Linked DNA regions of Homo sapiens: region 2 is linked to region 1. Evidence: fine-mapped expression QTL. A gene starts in region 1. The other region holds a variant in brackets. All regions are shown on one strand. Distances are from middle to middle. Region 1 holds the start of ANXA13 (annexin A13). Region 2 has its middle 21 kb from the start of TYW2.

Region 1 (2,921 bases):
ATGTGTATGAGATATTCATGCAAAAGATCAAAAACAATCTAAATGACCTTCAACGGTAGACTGATGAAATAAGGTTTGGTTCATATCCATAACAGTTGACTACATGGCCACTGAAAAAGAAATGTGCCAGTGTCAAATATCTCTTTAGTATATGAAATATACACTATATTAAGTGAAATAAGCAAGGCACAAAAAGACAAATATCACATGTTCTCCCTTATAACAAATATCACATGTTCTCCCTTAAATGTGGGAGCTAAAAAATTGATCACATGAAGGTAGAGAGTGGATAGATGGAGAAAAGAGACTGGAAAGGGTGAGTTGCGGGGGAAGAGGAGAAGTGGGTTAAAGGGTACAAACACACACTAAGATGGAAGGAATAAATTCAGTGTTGGATAGTAGAGTACGGTGGCTGTACTCAACAGAAATCTATTGTACTCAGGCAAACACTCTCAATACCCTGACTTGATCACTACTCATTATATGCATGTAACAAAATGTCTTATGTACCACATAAGTTTGTACAAATAAAAAAAGAAACATGTTGTAATAATCTCAGAAAAAAAAAGGAAAGACAAGAAATATGCAAGGCATGGAACAGAATACATTGTACAAACCCATTTGGTGAGGAAGAAAAGACAAGTTGGATCAAGATAAACAGAGAGGTAGGTAACTAGACAGGCAGACCGACGGACATAGCTGAATATGCATGGACCACTTCAGGAAGGACTCACGGAAAACCTCTGGGGGAAGGAAAAAGGAAGTCAGTAGGCCGACTTTTCACAGGACCTTTATGTATTATTAGAAACAAATTTACCATCTGCACATATTACTTTTTAAATTCAAAACTCAGTAAAATTTTTTAAATGATCTAGTGTAATGCAATGTAGCCTTCGAAAAATTCTCTGTAATAATAATAACAATGTTAGTAAAAAATAGTAATATTTTTCTATTTGGTTAATGCTTTCATTACTAAAAGGCATAATATTTTAAATGAACACCAGAATATGAAAGAATAACTCAACAATTCAGAAGTGAGGCAGGTTTAGTCTTTTAGGTGGGAAGAAGCTATTCAACTTTAAAAGCCTAAACTTTATTTATTAAGAAGTATATTATTTTAAAAACATGGGTACCAAGGAAACCTGGGCAGTCTAAGTTTATCTGTAGCTAGAGCCACTCCCTACCCATCCCCAACAATGTATTCAAATTCAGTGCCAAAAGTTACTTATTAAACACAAGAGATATTATGTCCGGGGGGAAAACTGTTGTAAACTTTGCCTGTAGGAGGACTGATCTCTTGATGAAATACAGAAAAACCATCTCAGAAAAAGGAAAATGGGCAATCGTCATGTAAGTACTCATTGCCTTTGGGAATTGGTTTTAATTTTGGTTAGCATGTGGAAGAATTTAAACTATAAAATCATGACTGATACTTGTATACTTTATCACTATGGTTACCCTTTAATATTGGTTTTAGCAACAGCATACCATGCTTTTAAAATGCATTGAGGCCGGGTGCGGTGGCTCACACCTGTACTCCCAGCACTTTGCAAGGCCAGAGTGGGCGGATTACTTGAGGTCAGGAGTTTGAGGTCAGCCTGGCCAACATGGTGAAACACTGTCTCTACTAAAAAAATTAAAAAAAAAAAAAAAGTTAGCTAGGTGTGGTGGAACATGCCTGTAGTCCCAGCTACTCAGGAGGCTGAGGCAGGAGAATCATTTGAACCTGGGAGGCGGAGGTTGCAATAAGCCGAGATTGCACCACTGCACTCCAGCCTGGACTACAAGAGTGAAACTCCGTCCCAAAAAAAAAAAAAAAAAAGCACTGGGGATATATTATTCCCTTATTGGCCAAAAATCTCTTAAGAGGGGCTAAAGAGAAAGAAGTATGTAAAATAAGGCAGTAAATAGTGCCTTGCAGAGAGCAAATGGTTAATATGTATCTGTAGAATGTATAACTAAAGCTGTTAGTTTGTAGCAAATTTGTATAAAACTTCATAAACTAAGCCCATTCAGAGTTATGTGGGAAAGATAGGTTCATGTTGCAAATATTAATAGACCAAGGTAAATACTCATGTAAGTCCACACAACTTGGATTGCAAGGTGAAAATATTCCATTATTATTTCTAAACATCCACATATTTGCAAATATCCATGGAATGGACTTAATAATTTACATTTCTTTTGAAATGTTTAGGCTCCTGAATAGTGTGTCTATAAATAGTTAATGACTAAAAACTGACTAAAACACTACCTTTTGGAACCAACTACACACAGGACAGATCAGAGTTGAATCTTGAATATTTTTTACATTGAAGTATATCTAAAGCTATTCCAATACAAATCTTAATAAGGTTTTGTGTACCTGCTGTAAATTTCCACAGCAAGAATGATATATTTCATGCACACTATGAGCAGAGAATAAAACTCCAAAACTTTCTGTAAACTGTTACTTTGTCTATAAGGTTTTTCCTTCGCTATATATTCAAGCTGCACTCAGATGTTTACAAACTTACAAATATATTCTTAGGAAAGGCATTGTTTTTCAAATCATCTACAAATAGCATTTTCATACCAGCAGAGATTATGAGCCATCCGTTCAGTGTATCTTTCAGAGAAACTGAAGCCTATTTTTCAAATATTTCTGATAGATGCAGAGGACCCCAGGAATAATCAATGGACCCTGCATTCACAGCTTAGGAGGATAATTTTGTCTTTTGAAAGTCAACCTAGGGAGCAGCTGGCCTTTAGGAGTGGACCAGCATTTTTATGTATTTTTTTTTAATCCTCAGAGCCAGTCGTACACCCTCTCAGAAGGCAGTCAACAGTTGCCTAAAGGGGACTCCCAACCCTCGACAGTCGTGCAGCCTCTCAGCCACCCATCACGGAATGGAGAGCCAGAGGCCCCACAGCCTGTAAGC
Region 2 (2,921 bases), 690 kb before region 1:
CATGTGCTGTGTCCATTCAGGGTTAAATGGATTAAGGGCGGTGCAAGATGTGCTTTGTTAAACAGATGCTTGAAGGCAGCATGGTCGTTAAGAGTCATCACCACTCCCTAATCTCAAGTACCCAGGGCCACAAACACTGCGGAAGGCCGCAGGGTCCTCTGCCTAGGAAAACCAGAGACCTTTGTTCACTTGTTTATCTGCTGACCTTCCCTCCACTATTGTCCTATGACCCTGCCAAATCCCCCTCTGCGAGAAACACCCAGGAATGATCAATTAAAAAAAAAAGAAAGAAAAAAAAATCTTTTATTTCTTTGTGATTTAGTCTTGGTTGTATGTTTCTGGGAACTTACCCATTTCTTCCAGGTTATCTGGTTCATAGACACACAACTGTTCGTAGTAGTCTCTTATTATGCTTTTTATTTCTGTAGGACCAGTTGTAAAGTTTCTACTTTCATTTGTGATTTTGTTTATTTGAGTGTTCTCTTTTTTAGTTAGTCTTGGTAAGGGTTTGTCGATTTTGTTTATCTTTTCAAAAAACCAACTCTTAGTTTTGTTGATTTTTTTCTATTGCTTTTCATTTTCTATTCCGTTTATTTCTGCTCTAATTTTTATTATTTCTTTCCTTCTCCTAACTTTGGGCTTAGATTTGTTTTTCTTTTTCTAGTTCCTTGAAATGTAAAGTTAGGTTGCTTATTTGAGATCTTTCTTCTTTCTTAATGTAGGTGTTTATCACTCTGAATTTCTCTTTTAGTAGTGCTTTTGCTGCATCCTGTCAGTTTTGGTATGTTCTGTTTTCATTTTTGTCTCAAAATACTTTATAATTTCTCTTCTATTTCTTCTTTGACCCCTTGGTTGTCCAGCTTCTCAAAAAGTTGTAAGAGTCATCCTTGCATCTTTCCTTTCCTAATTCTCTACAACCATTCTGCCAACAAGGTCTGTTAACGCTAATCTAAAACATATCTTGAATGTGTCCACAACTCTCCACACCTATTCCTTCATCCTAGTACAGTCACCATTATCTCCTGCCCAGATTTCTAACCAGAAACTGCAATCCTCATTTGTATCCGGAATTCATTTTCCATGCACTTAAAACCCTCTAACCAGAAACTGCAATCCTCATTTGTACCTGGAATTCATTTTCCATACACTTAAAGCCCTCCACTGTCTTCCCACTGTACTTAGGCCATTGTCCACATGCCCCCACCTAAGTCCAGCACAATCTGGCCCCTGCCCAGCCTTATAAACTCATCTCACATCAATCTCACCTTTGCTCACTCTCCTGTAGCCACATTGGTCTGCAGTTTGTTCTTAACATGATCCAGGTCCTCTGCTGTCCGACAGCATTTATCCCTGCTTCCGCTCTTGGGGATGCTCTCCTTCAGATCTTCACAGGGATCCCTTTTAATTCATGAATCTCAGTCAAATGTCACCTCCTCCTTCAGAGCAGCCTTACCTGACCACCTAAAGTGCCCTTTTCCAAGCTGCTTTTTCTCAGCATCCTCCTTATTTCCTTAGTGCATTCTTATAACCTGCTCTCTTCTTTATTTGCTCATTACTTATATATTATATATTTCCATTTTCTTCCAGCAAGTCAAGGAAGAAAATGGAATGGCCTTATTCATCACTGTCTTATTTAGCCTTATTCATCATTGTCTCTTCCAGAGCTTAGCCCAGTGACCAGTACATAGCAAACATTCAATAAATACTTGCTGATC[T/G]AGTGAATACATGAAAAAAGGAAGACACAATGAAATGAATGATGAAATAAATGTTGTTTGGTCCTGCTAATCTCCCACTGTCCTGGATCCAGTCCTGGATAAAAATCTTTGCTCCATTTTGTGTATGGTGGGGTTGAGAGACTCAGCCCATGAGAGAGGGTATTCAGAATGCATCTAAGGACACAACCTGACAGCAACAGAGATTTATCTTATCATACTTCCTAACAATGCCCTTGAGGCTACACCGGAGGAATACATTCCAGACAAGGGGCGTTGGCAACACTGGGGCAGCAAAGCAGTTCCAGTCTATAGCCCATTTCAGGGAAATGAGTCTTGAGAGAAAAGACCAGAACCATCAGCTCCCTACAAATAAATCCACCACACACTAGCATGGTTGGTTGGTTGAGAGGCTGCGGCATCTTCTGCTGCACTTGGAGGAAATAGGGGAAAGGGTGGCAAGGTGGAATATGACAGCATGGATGCCCACAGAAGAACTCTATTAGCATTCGGTGACTCAAAAGTCAGTCTTCCTTCTTTTTTTCTTTCTCTCTTTCTTTCTCTTTCTTTCTTTTCTTTCTTTCTCTTCCTTCCTTCTCCTCCTCCTCCTTCTTCCCTCCTTCTTTCTTTTTCTTTCTTTCTTTCCTTCCTTCTCTTTCTTTCTTTCTCTTTCCTTCCTTCCTTCCCTCCCTCCCTCCTTCCTTCTTTTCTTTTCTTTCTTTCTCTCTCTCTTTCTTCTCTCTCTCTTTCTTGACTCAGAAGTTTTTCTTTCCTTTCCTCAAGTGATCCTCTTGCCTCTGTCTCCCAAGTAGCTAAGATTGCTTTTTAAAAGTTTTTGTAGAGATGAGATCTTGCTATGTTGCCGAGGCTGCTCTTGAACTCCTGGCCTCAAGGAACCTTCTAGCTTCAGCCTCCCAAAGTTCTCAAATTACTGGCAGTAACTACTGAGCCTGGCTGTGAGTCAGAAGTTCTAATGTAAAGCCTTTATGTCTCTGCTTCTCATGTTAAAGGCAGACTAAGTGACTTAAGAGACTAAGTGACTGGCCGGGTGCGGTGGCTCACACCTGTAATTTCAGGACTTTGGGAGGCCGGGGCAGGTGTGTCATTTGAGGTCAGGAGTTTGAGACCAGCCTGGCCAACATGATGAAAACCTGTCTCTACTAAAAATACAAAAATTAGCTGGACATTGTGGGGCATGCCTGTAGTCCC

What was found.
Region 2: its variant is fine-mapped to the expression of ANXA13 in liver (GTEx, PIP above 0.99).

What each region holds. Positions count from the first base shown.
Region 1 is chr8:123,735,749-123,738,669 of GRCh38, reverse strand. It overlaps ANXA13 (annexin A13), which reads left to right and starts at 1,277. Exons shown (of 11, transcript NM_004306.4): 1 at 1,277-1,350. The coding sequence starts at 1,336. All of the region lies in intron 1 of LOC105375739 (a long non-coding RNA gene), which reads right to left.
Region 2 is chr8:124,428,685-124,431,605 of GRCh38, reverse strand. No RefSeq gene overlaps it. Among named protein-coding and RNA genes, the nearest start is that of TYW2, 21 kb to the left of the region's middle. RefSeq lists enhancers at 1-386, 2,385-2,886. The variant T/G (reference allele first, on the strand shown) is at 1,716.